Linked DNA regions of Homo sapiens: regions 2 and 3 are each linked to region 1. The links come from fine-mapping of genetic effects on plasma protein levels. Region 1 holds a variant in brackets. A gene starts in each other region. All regions are shown on their forward strands.

Region 1 (4,171 bases):
TGCCCCTCTAGAGAACCCTGACTAATACATGTTTCTGAAATACGCAGCCATAGAAGGAAATGAGAAATGAAACTTCCTGACACAGGCAGGAAACCTCAGGAAGCAGCGAGGTCAGAGCTGAGTTGGCTTCTGGTGACTTGCAATGTCAGGGAATCACTAAAAGGGAGGTTTCCGCCTCTATATGAGACAGAGGAGAACCCCAGGGCCCTCACAGTCAGGGAGGGGTTGGGGTTTTGGGTGAAAGTGGGAAGTTGTGGCTCCTCGTCCCCTGTGTTTGTGGATGGCACTGGGGTATCTCTGCTCATTGACTCAGGTTTATGGTCAGCCCTGAGCCTCCCCCTCTGTGTGTGTGAAATAGATTCATTGTAGAGTTGTCAGACATGAGGTTCACACTGGACCCTCCCCTGCTGGTTACAGGCCTGAGCAGACTCACAAGACCCGGGCAGGTGGTGCCGTCCTCCTCTTTTCAAGCCTAACGCCCAGTGCAGCCCTGGTAGAAACCCTCTCTGGCAGATGAGGCACTGGGAGATGAGTGTCCAAGAATGAGAAGAAAGAGGAATCATCCTAATGATAAAAAGTGCTATGACTGGCTGCCTGCGATGGCTCACGCCTATTTTCCCAGCGCTCTGGGAGGCCGAGGTGGGCAGATCGCTGGAGCCCAGGAGTTCGAGACCAGCCTGGGCAACATGGTGAAACCCCATCTCTACTAAAAAGACAAAAATGAACTGGGTGTGGTGGTGCACACCTGTAGTTCCAGCTACTTAGGAGCCTGAGGTCGAAGATCGCTTGAGTCTGGCAGGCGGAGGTTGCAGTGAACTGGGGTGGTGCGCCACTGCACTTTAGCCTGGGTGACAGAGCAAGAACCTGTCTCAAAAACAAACACAGGCTGGGCGTGGTGGCTCACGCCTGTAATCCCAGCACTTTGGGAGGCCGAGGCAGGCAGATCATGAGGTCAAGAGATCGAGACCATCCTGGCCACACGGTGAAACCCCATCTCTACTAAAAATACAAAAAAAAAAAAAAAAAAAGATTAGCTGGTTGTGGTGGCGGGCACCTGTAGTCCCAGCTACTCGGGAGGCTAAGGTAGGAGAGTTGCTTGAACTCAGGAGACAGAGGTTGCAGTGAGCTGAGATCACGCCACTGCACTCTAGCCTGGGTGACAGAGTGAGACTCCGTCTCAAAAAATAAATAAATAAATAAATAAAAACAAAAAACAAACCAAAAAATCAAACACAAAGTGCTATGGTTGACAATCCACACTCACTAATGAGGATTATCATGGTCAAAAGGAGTACTAGGAATGTGTGAGACCCATCTTAGGTTAAACATGTTTAAATATTTGAGAAATACAGAGGACATTGAATTTCTGAGGCAGGATTATATGATTTTTTTTTCTACAGCAGAATGAATATTATATAAAATAATTAGAAGACATAGAAAAATCAGATTTAATGAACACAATCAAAATACTCATTCCTTCGAGGACAAGACACAGTGAAGCACCAATTATGAAATTAGAAAACAAAACAGAATTTTTTTTAGAGTGTAGCATAGAAACTTTATAAATTGCAATTTAAAGTACTTGGGAGAATAGAATGAGGAGGGGGAATGTCCTATCTATTGTAGGCGTCAGAAAGAAGGAAGAGAAAACGATGTCTAGCAATAGCCCAAGAGGTGAGTAGCTGAAC[A/G]TTTTATAGAGATGAGGAGAGACTAACTAAGGACTAGGGCGCATCCCTTTAAAATTGAAATGTATGGGCTGGACGTGGTGGCTCACGCCTGTAAGCCCAGCACTTTGGGAGGCTGAGGCGGGCGGATCACCTGAGGTCGGGAGTTTGAGACCAGCCTGACCAACATGGAGAAACCCTGTCTCTACTAAAAATACAAAAATTAGCCGGGCGTGGTGGCAGGTGCCTGTAGTCCCAGTTACTCGGGAGACTGAGGCAGGAGAATCGCTTGAACCCGGGAGGCAGAGGTTGCAGTGAGCCGAGATCACTCCACTGTACTCCAGCCTGGTGATAGAGCGAGACTCCGTCTCAAAAAACAAAACAAAACAAAACAAAAACCCTCACACAAAAACCAAGACAAATCCCCTTGACACAAGTTTATCTGTCTAACAAACCTGCACATGTATCCCTGAACTTAAAAGTGAAAAAAATAAAGGCAATATGTGTCAGATTTGTGGTGGTGTCTGCTGTTTCACCCCCATATGGAAATGTGTGCCTGAACCCCGCTTTTTTCCTTGCTTATTGTGGCTAGGATTTGTGAATGTAATTCACATTCTCAAGAATGAGCTTTTTTGGCTTCATCGAGTTTTCACGTAGCCCTCATTAGTAACTCCTCTTGTTATTTTTGTCCCCTTCCTCACACCTTCATTTGGAATAATTTGTTGTTCTTTTTCTAAATTCTTTCTGTCATTGCCAAGGTCATTAATTACGTAGGTTTTATTCTTTTCTAATTCATTCGCTCATTTGTAGTTTTCCGATTTCATCATTTAATGTGTAATATTTACATTATCATTCCAAATTTATACCATGCTCTAATTTCTGTTTCAGTTTTCTCAGCTCATTGATTTATTGAGAAGTCTGTGGCTTCATTTCAAAAATGCAAGGATATTAGTCATCTTTGACTGCAGAATCTAGTGAGTCCCAGAGTTCCCAGGATGTCCTGGTGGTCTTTGTTAGGGGTCCAGGCTGGCTGGGGTTCATTGGTGTCCACTGGGGGCAGCTCCTGTGCCTTCTGGAGTCTCTGAGTCTCCTTCTGTTGAGTATGAGATCTGGGTCCCCCGTGGGCTAGTGGATGGCCAGGGGGGCGTAGATGCTGGGTTCAGCTGGAGGTTCCCTTTCCTGGGATGGAGGAGGCTCAGTTGCCTCCCGTCTGAGGGTCAAGCTGTGCAGCTGGGCGTAGGTCACATCCTGGGGGGCTTCAGATGCAGCAGCCTGCAGCGGGGGAGAGTGAGAGGGAAGGAACGTGGTGGGGGTGGGGGAGGCCTGGGGGCCTGGAGAGGAAAGGACTCTCTCAGTGTCCATCTGTCTGTCCTCTTCTGCCTGTCTGTCCTTTGTGTCCAGGAATTCCCCAGACAGTGGGGAAGGAGGAGAGGCCATTTCTCTCCTAGGTCTGGAGTGTTTCACCGGGGCATACGTCACTGCCTGGGGGTCTTCATCGTGTGGGCTCTGCTGGAGAGAGACAGTGGTGGGGGGTGTCCTTGAGTCCCCCTGACCTCCTGGAGTCAATTTTCCTCACTGTTCCCGGGGTGATCCGATTACATCCCTTTCCTGATGGAATCTCAGGGACGCCCTAAGGCCGTGGAGGGTCTGGCCGCTCCCTCCCTGTGGTTCTGGCCTCTGCTCCTCACTCTGACCTTGCCCATTTGGCTGCAGCCTCACGGGCCTTCCCGCAAGAGCTCGCTGCTGCCTCGGGGCCTTTGCACGGCTGTTTCCTCTGCCTGCAGGGGCTCGTCCATCAGAGGATCGTGTGCCCCACTCTGTCCAGGCTTCTCAGATGACAGCTGAGCAGACAGCCCTCCCCTTCCATTCAGACTGGCCCCACTGCCCCACACTCTCTGCCCTTTCCCTGGTTTATGTTCCTTACAGCACGTTGCACTCCTGGACACGATGCATTTATTTGCATTTTGTCTCCCACCATGAGGTGAGCTCAGGAGGCGGGGGCGGCTTTGCTCCCTGCTGTGTCTGCAGCTCCCATGGGGAGCCCCATCCACAGTGAGCTCCCTGGGAACACTCGCTGGTTGAATGAATGAAGGGGAGCCTGGGGGACCGGGTCGGTTCATTTATTCCTCATCCTCCTGAGGCCTGGGGAGAGCTCTAACAACCAGACGGCCAAACAGAGGATGAGGAGCAGGAAGGGGACCCGGGAGGAGGCCCACGAGGTCCCAGGACAGCAGAAGAGAGTGAGGTCGCAGCAGGCGGGAGGCAGCGTGCTGGACAAGGAGGGGTCCACCGTGACGATGCTGAGAGCCGGGGGAAGGAGGACAGAGAAGTCCTGCTGGATTAGATCTGGCACCAGGAGGCCTTTGGTGCCCGGGACAGGGGCGGGGCCTCACCGGAGCATCCATCTCCACCCCGTCCTTGGGCTGTGTGTCCTTCACGGCAGCATCTGCTGGGCCAGAGCAAGGGGTTCATCTCCTGGGAAGGTTCTCTGAGACTTCTCCGTCCTG
Region 2 (4,171 bases), not on the chromosome of region 1:
ATGGTGAAACCCCGTCTCTACTAAAAATACAAAAATTAGCTGGGTGTGGTGGCACGTGCCTGTAATCCCAGCTACTCGGGAGGCTGAGTCAGGAGAATTGCTTGAACCCAGGAGGCAGAGGTTGCAGTGAGCCGAGATCGTGCCACTGCCCTTCAGCCTAGACAACAGAGCGAGACTCTAAGAAAAAAAAAGAAAAAGAAAAAGTAGATGAGTGGTTATCCAGGGAAATGAGGACTGGCAGTGATGTCTCAGAAGGGCAGAATTTCTCTTAGAGGTGATAAAAATGTTCTAAAATGGGTTGTGGTGATAGCTGCACAGTTCTGTGCTTTGAATTGTACAGCTCAATGAGTGAATTGCATTGCCTGTAAATTGCATCACCATAAAGCTATAAAAACAGGGTACATACAGTCTGGGTGGATCCCAAGATGTCTTCAGATGGTGGCCTTTGAGAGTCATGAGGGGCTAGGGTTGGAGCTGAAGCCTAAAGCATGACTTTTAGCTGGTGCAGGAGTGGCTTCCTTCTGTCTCCCACTACAATTCAGAGGATACTCAGGGAAAGATCTGGACATCCTGTATGTGGAAAGGCGGTTGCGCACAGTGGAATGGACTCCTAAGTGGCAGGCAGGTGACAACCGTTGTCTACTTCACCCAAGGGAAGATTTCTCCATGGAGCGTGTTTTATAGGTTCTGTCTCTCCGAGTCCCCTTTGAGAATATAATGGGATACATTGCATCCATGCTGAATTCCTAAGCCCCAGGACCTCAGAATATGCCCTTATTTGGAAACAGGGTCTTTATGGAGGTACTTAAGGTACAATGAGGTCACTGGGGTGGATCCTACTTCTTTTTTTTTTTTTTCCGAGGGGAATTTTCATTGTTGTCCCCCAGACTGGAGTGCAGTGGCACCATCTCAGCTCACTGCAACATTCGCCTCCCGGGTTCAAGTGATTCTCCTGCCTCAGCCTCCCGAGTAGCTGGGAATACAGGTGCCGGCCACCACGCAAGGCTAATTTTTGTATTTTTAGTAGAGACAAGGTTTCACCATGTTGGCCAGGCTGGTCTAGAACTCCTGACCTTAGGTGATCTGCCCGCCTCGGCCTCCCAAAGTGTTGGGATTACAGGCGTGACCCACTGCGCCCGGCCTAGGGTGGACCCTATTTCAATATGACTGGTGTCCTTTGGAAAGGGGAAAGGGGGACAGTCACACCCAGGCAGAACGTGATGAAGATGAAGATGGCCATCTACAAGGGCAGGAGAAACCTGAACAGAATCCCAGCTCCGGGCCCTCAGAAGGACCCCACGCTGCCCACATTGACCTTGGACCTCCAGCCTGCAGATCGTGAGGGAAGAGACGTCTTCGACTTAGGGCCCCTTGTCGTGGTACTTCCTTAGTTTGGCCCCAGGAAACCATCCCAAAGGCAAGGGCGTGGTTGTGCTCAGCTGGGGGAAGGGGGCTGGGGGCCGTGAGGAGGAGGTGGGAGGCCCAGCCAGGCTGGAGGGTCAGAACCCGTGGAGCTAGAAGAGCCCGTAGGGGAGCCCCAAGATTGCTGAGACCAGTGACCTTCGGCCCCAGATGGCCTTGCCTTGGCCCAGAAGGGTCAGAAGGACCTGGTCAGCCAAGCTCAGACAGCCGGCAGGATGCCTTCCACCCTGCAGAGGGTCCTATCTTGTCCCACAGGTAGATCTACATCACCACTAGCCACCCCTCCAACGTGCACAGGCCCCTGCCCTCACGGCGCCCCTCTTAGGTCCGGCAGTTCCTGCCTCCTTCTGATCCAGAAGTTTCTCTGGCCTCTGGAGCCGGGGCACACCTCATGCAAGGACAGGGTCCAAATTCCTTTGTCCTTGGATCCCACTTGGCTGACGTCACCTTCCTGTACTCAGGGAGTTTCCCCAGCCAGCTGTCCCGAGTCTGGACTTTCCCTCTGCCCCTCCCCACTCTCAGGCTGGTGGGGTGGGGAAAGCAGCCCATTCCTGGGCTCAGAGACTCCCACCCCAGCTCAGAGGGAGCAGGGGCCCAGCCAGGGACGGACCCTCATTCCTCCCAGGGACCCCAGACCTCTGTCTCTCTCGGGTAAGTCTCCATCTCTGTCTGTCTCTGTCTCTGTCTCTGTCTCTGTCTGTTTTTCACGCACTCAGCAAGGCCTCCTGCCCTGAGAGAGGCTCCGCCCACTACCCCCCACTTTCCCCATAAAACCAGCTGAGTATTTGTGCCAGGAAGACTGCGTGCAGAAGGTGACTGTCTCAGTGGAGCTGGGTCATCTCAGGTGGGGAGTTGGGGTCCCCGAAGGTGAGGACCCTCTGGGGAGGAGGGTGCTTCTCTGAGACACTTTCTTTTCCTCACACCTGTTCCTCGCCAGCAGGCCTTGGCTCCTTGAACTTTTGGCCGCCATGTGCTTCCCGAAGGTGAGTGAGAGGCTGCGTGTGCTTTTGTGGGCATGTCTGAAAACAGACCGTAAGGGTGCGGGTGCCCTCAGTATTTCCCGAGGTGCCTGTGTGTCAGGGCTCAGTCAGGGGCACCCAGCGGCAGGAGGATAGTGATGGGGTGAGAGTGTCAGTGGAGGCGCTGGAGGTCATATGTGTCGGGGGCGCTGGAGAACGGCAGGGGTGTGGATGAGAGGGAGCACCTGTCCCAGGAGCCCTTCACAGCCCGGAAAGCCCGGGGCAGGGGTGGGGCAGGGCTCTGCTGGAAACGACTCGGAGAATGCTTCTCTCAGAGGCCGGCTCAGCTGGGTGGGCCCAAGAGCAAGGCCTGTGTGGGTCCTGGTGTCTCTTCCTCCTTTCCTGGGTTCCCTCCGACCTCCCATCCTCTACCACTGCCCCACCGCAAATGCTAGGCCCACCACACCCTCCAGGGAGCTCTTCGGCCTGTGACAATAGGGGTTTCCATGATGTGGCCTGGCTCAGGTTCAGGACAGTGACCCGGAGGACACATGGCTCCCGCATGTCGGCACGGTGCTGCTTTCACCCTGGTTCCTGGGAAATCAGGCTAGCGGGATGGGACCATCGCTGCCTGAAAGTGTGCAGACAGCTGCCCTGCCCAGAATATGTCCCCAGGCCCTGCGCACTCTGTGGGTGACTGTCACCACTCTATAGTGGGGGAAACCAGGCATGTCACCCCCGAGACTAGGCCCTTGACGTGGGGGCTCAGCGGGGATTCTGTGGGGTGCCTCTGGCCTCTGTGGATGCAGCCACGTGTCTGCAGGCAGGAATGGCCCGGGACCTGTGGGTCTGCATGTTGGCAGTCGGGAAGAGTGGCAGGTTGTAGGGTGGACCTACCTGGCACCCCAAATATTAATCAGCTCATCAGAGAGGAATGGCTGCTGTTACCTTCTCAATTGTCATGTCCCTAAACATTTTTTCCTTGGCCAACTCTCACCTGGGACCATAGTGGTTGTGGGAAACCCAGCTGAGCCAGCCTGCTCCAGGACAGTGTCCATCCTCCCGTGTGTGTACATGGGGGGGTGTGTGTGTGCAGGGAGGACACCCCGGCCCACGCAGGCCCTGCTCTTGTGAGGAGGGGTCACCTAGGCCCACGCAGGCCCTGCTCTTGTGAGGAGGGGTCACCTAGGCCCACGCAGGCCCTGCTCTTGTGAGGAGGGGTCACCTAGGCCCACGCAGGCCCTGCTCTTGTGAGGAGGGGTCACCTAGGCCCACGCAGGCCCTGCTCTTGTGAGGAGGGGTCACCTAGGCCCATGCTGGCCCTGCTCTTGGGCCTGCCCAGCTGAGCCGGCTCCTGAGAGAAGCGCTTTCTGAGTCGTTTCGAGGACAGCCCTGGCCGGTCTTTCCAGGCTGTGAGGGGCTCCTGGGACTGCTGTCTCCTCTTATCCTGTACCTCTGCCATGTGTCTCTGTGTGTGTGTGTGTGTGTGTGTGTGTGTGTGTGTGTGTATAAATTATCCTGGAGGAAAGGTTAAGGTGACACATGGAGACTGAGTGTCACCGTTATTTCCGCAGGTCCTCTCTGATGACATGAAGAAGCTGAAGGCCCGAATGGTAATGCTCCTCCCTACTTCTGCTCAGGGGTTGGGGGCCTGGGTCTCAGCGTGTGACACTGAGGACACTGTGGGACACCTGGGACCCTGGAGGGACAAGGATCCGGCCCTTTGGTGCCAACTCTGCCTCTCTTCACAGCACCAGGCCATAGAAAGATTTTATGATAAAATGCAAAAT
Region 3 (4,171 bases), not on the chromosome of region 1:
TTGGCCTCTCAAAGTGCTGGGATTACAGGCATGAGCCACTACACTCTGCCCCCGAAAGTTCTTAATTTTAATGAAGTCCAATTTATTTTTGTTTTGTTGCCTATGCTTTTGGTGTCATATCCAAGAAATCCTTGCCACATCCAATGCCAAGAAGTCCCCCTTATATTTTCTTCTAAGAGTTTTGTAGTTTTAGCTTTTATGTTTAGGTATTTAATCCATTTTGGAGTTAATTTTTTAATATACTTACGGTAAAGATTCAACTTCATTATTTCGCATGTGGACATTCCAGTTTTCTAAGTCTTCTTTAAAAGACTTGCCTTTCCCTCGTTGAACGGTCTTGGTACCCTTGTCTAAAATCATTTGACCATATGTGTAAGAGTTTATTTCTGGGCTATTCTATTCCATTAGTCTAAATGTCTGTCTTTATACTAATACCACACTATTTTAATTATTGTAGATTTGTGGTTACATATTAAAATCAGAAACTGTAAGACTTCCAATTTTGTTCTTTTTCAAGATTGTTTTGACTATTTGGGGTCCTTTGAGATTCCATATAAATTTTAGGATGGATTTTTCTGTTTCTATAAAAATATTATGATTTGCATTTCAATAGGGATTGCATTGAATCTGTAGATTGCTTCAGGCAACATTGACACCTTAGCAATATCAAGTCTTCTAATCCATGAATATAGGATGACTTTCCATTTATTTGTGTCTTCTTTCACTTTGTTTGTCAACACTTGTGATTTTCAGCGTACAAGTCTTTTGCTTCCTTGGTTAAGTTTATTGCTAAGGGCCAGGCGCAGTGGCTCACACCTGTAATCCCAGCACTTTGGGAGACCGAGGCGGGCGGATCACGAGGTCAAGAGATCAAGACCATTTGGCCAACATGGTGAAACCCCATCTCTACTAAAAATACAAAAATTTGCCGGGCATGGTAGCAGCTATGGTGGGCAGCATGGTGGGCAAGTAGTCCCAGCTACTTGGGAGGCTGAGGCAGGAGAATCACTTGAACCCAGGAGGCAGAGGTTGCAGTGAGCCAAGATCATGCCACTGCACTCCAGCCTGGGTGACAGAGCGAGACTCCATCTCAAAAAAAAAAAAAAAGTTTATTGGTAAGAATTTTATTCTTTTTATTCTTTTTCATTGCTTTTATAAATGAAATTGTTTTCTTAATTTCCTTTTTGGATTTTTCATTATTAGTGTATAGAAACAACTAATTTCTATGTGTTAATTTTGTATCCTGCAACTTTGCTGACTTTATTAATTCTAATAAGTGTGTGTGTGTGTGTATGTGTGTGTAATCCATCTTGGTTTTGTTTTTATTTTTACTTGGAGACTCAGGCAGGGACAGGTTTTCTTGTCATCTTCCAAAGCCTGTGGGTAGACTTTTTCTAGGTCCCTATTCATTGAAGAAGCAGGCTTCAAGGATCCCAGCTGTCCTCAAGAGTACTGGTTCCAGCTTCCTGCTTCATGAACCGGTCATGGCCCCTGCAAGGTCAAGGTCATTATAATGCCAGCACCTGACTGCTAAGGCTATTTCCCTTCCAATACCTTCCCCTCAGAGCTCCTGGTGCATCAGCTCATTCAACCTTCTGCTTTTCTGCTCTCTCTTGATTTAAGAAACAGACACATTATATTTCTACATAGTTAGAGCACAGGGGTCCCAGCATCCCACTTCCAAATGAGCATGTCAAGCACATGCATTCAGAGAGGATACCTGGAAGCCAAAATTTTGCCATAGTGAAAGGCCTTATTCCTGAATACAGCTAGAGTGGGGAAGACCTTGGCCTCTCCCCCCGCAGGCAAGAATGTTGCCTCCACAGGGGGCTGGTAGCCTGCTAAGGCCCAGGCCACATGAGTGGGTTGTCTACTGTTACTGAGGGCCTACTATGTGCCAGACACCATACTAGGTGCTTTACATACATTATATGTCATTGAATCTTCCCTCTAGTCCTGTGAGATAGGTACTATTATTGTCACTGATTCACTTGAGAAAGCTGCCAAAACACAGATAGCAAGGGGCAGAACCAGGATTCTGATTTAGGTTGGCTCAGCCTTTTATCAAATACATCTGGTCTTCCTCTGTCCTTTCAAAAGCCTATAGCTTCCTCATCTTGCCCACTCCTCTGTGGGTAGGGTCTGTGGTTTCCTTTCTCTTATCTATCTTCAACACACAGTGGGTGTGACCTGGGTGCAACCAGTCACAGCTCTGCAGAGGTTACTGTGATTTTGCCCCTGAAGGATCTGTCCACAACTTAGGAACTCACACAGCTTTTGGCCTGAGCCCCCGTTACCAAGAGAAAGGAGGTTTTTGCCAAGGACTCCAAGGGGAGTGCACTTGATGCTGGTCGGGACCCAAAGCGCCCAGCCCTCCCTGAGACATTGTGTGAGTCGGGCTGGGCCTCAAACACGGCCCCCACTGCCCCACCCCAGCCAGGGTGGTGCTTGTGTGGGAAGGACTTTAAATCCAGCTGCCAGACCCCTGGACGGGAGAAGGAGAGACGGCTGGCCACCATGCACGGCTCCTGCAGTTTCCTGATGCTTCTGCTGCCGCTACTGCTACTGCTGGTGGCCACCACAGGCCCCGTTGGAGCCCTCACAGATGAGGAGAAACGTTTGATGGTGGAGCTGCACAACCTCTACCGGGCCCAGGTATCCCCGACGGCCTCAGACATGCTGCACATGGTAAGTGTGGCCACGGCCCTTGCTGGCTGGGATGGAAGGGGTGCTGGCCAGGGTCTGTCACCAGGCTCTCTTACCCTGCTCCTCATGCTGAAGCTATTTCAGAATTCCTCTCCTTTTTCTGGTCAGTGACAGAGTCCCCGAGTCCCTGACATGGTATTACATTACTTTAAATGGCAAAAACCACAATTACTTTTGCACCCGCCTAATAAAATTCACAGGCCCCTATAAGCAGCCTCATAATACAGATAAGGAAAGTGAGGCTCAGAGGGATTTGTTGGGGTCACACAGCTGGTAGAGCCAGACCCAAAGCCCTGGCTTCCCACTCCAATGAGCTTTCCCCAGCACTTCCTCAAATGCATGTGCCCTCAGTGGGGGAACCCGGGAAGTTCTTAACACCTTTGTGAAAACGGTCTTTCACATGCCTGCCAAGGAGAGGACAAGAGGAAGCAGGGCAGCAGGATGGGCGTGGGCACGTGGAGTAGGAGGCAGGTGCTAAGGAGGTGGGTGACAGCAGGATCCAGAAGCAGAGAGGGCTCTGGATCACACAGTCCAAATTCTGTCTCGGTCACCTACAAGACCTATGATTCGAGGCAAGTCCTGTAACCTTGCCGATCCCGTGTCTCATCTGTAAAAGGCGGTCAGAATTAGAGCTACGTATATACCAGTGTGGATTGAATCTCACAGATATCATACTGAATGGGGGAGGAAATAAAATCTCTAAAAAATACACAGTAGGATCTCTTTACATGAAGTCTGAAAACATGTAAAAATACTATTTATGTCCTGGTGAAACACGCAGATGTAGTAAACATTACATGTACATGCACACAGGAGACAGAAGCCAGATTTAGGGTTGGTTACTTCTGTCAGGAAGAGCTATTTATGGTAGGGTGAGAGGCGGGCTGTCTATATGCAGAATTAAAGGAGATAAAGTGAGAAATTCACCCACTTCCTGCCCTCCCTGAGGGCTGAACTAGCTTGTCCCCTCCAGCCACCCTCAGGTGACTGGGGAGGTTGCTGGGCAGTGTTCAGGGACCCCTGGAGCTGGTGCCTGAGAGAACAGATGCACCTTGGGGAACATAACAGTGAGCCTGGGGCCCCAAACCTAAGTTCTAACCTCAGCCTAATGTGATCTGGCTGAAGTAACTCTGGGTGGACCCCTTTCCCTTCAAAGGCCTCTGTTTCCAGATGGAAACATGGGGCTGGCGATCCCTGCCCTGGGCGTCAGACAGGATGACACGTAAGAAAGATCTAGGAAGAGCTCTGCACACACCCAGCACTGCCGTTCACAGCTGTGCCAGCCTGCACATCGAGGAAAGGTGGACAACAAACCAGGCGTCACAGATGCAGCTCTGCCAACAGCTCCCTGATTGAGGCCTGTGACTCATTGTTGGACTTCAGTTTCCCCACCTGTAGATCCCTGATGCCCTACAGTCTTGCTGGCTGAGACTGGGGGCCACACAGGCTGGGAGCTGCTTCTCAG

Which allele goes with the higher level. Alleles are on the strand shown, and positions count from the first base shown. The strength of an association depends on the size of the effect and on how common the allele is.
For the plasma level of the protein whose gene starts at base 2,219 in region 2, allele G in region 1 goes with a lower level than allele A (strong association).
For the plasma level of the protein whose gene starts at base 2,495 in region 3, G is the high allele of the variant in region 1 and A is the other (strong association).

Evidence for each region. PIP is the posterior inclusion probability: the model's chance that the variant is causal. Protein levels are from antibody-based Olink assays in UK Biobank. Linkage for the fine-mapping came from a reference panel and not from the study's own genotypes, which makes the PIPs less certain.
Region 2: it holds the start of IL32, and the variant in region 1 is fine-mapped to the plasma level of the IL32 protein (UK Biobank, PIP above 0.99).
Region 3: PI16 starts here. The variant in region 1 is fine-mapped to the plasma level of the PI16 protein (UK Biobank, PIP above 0.99).

What each region holds. Positions count from the first base shown.
Region 1 is chr19:54,247,997-54,252,167 of GRCh38, forward strand. It overlaps LILRB5 (leukocyte immunoglobulin like receptor B5), which reads right to left. Exons shown (of 13, transcript NM_001081442.3): 12 at 4,058-4,110; 13 at 1,425-2,936. The coding sequence ends at 2,790. Among named protein-coding and RNA genes, the nearest start is that of LILRB5, 7.2 kb to the right of the region's middle. RefSeq lists an enhancer at 3,498-4,115. The variant A/G (reference allele first, on the strand shown) is at 1,689.
Region 2 is chr16:3,063,422-3,067,592 of GRCh38, forward strand. IL32 (interleukin 32) reads left to right here and starts at 2,219. Exons shown (of 7, transcript NM_001376923.1): 1 at 2,219-2,266; 2 at 2,363-2,405; 3 at 3,956-3,994; 4 at 4,133-4,171. The coding sequence starts at 2,391. RefSeq lists an enhancer at 1,713-2,022.
Region 3 is chr6:36,952,244-36,956,414 of GRCh38, forward strand. It overlaps PI16 (peptidase inhibitor 16), which reads left to right and starts at 2,495. Exons shown (of 7, transcript NM_153370.3): 1 at 2,495-2,688. The coding sequence starts at 2,518.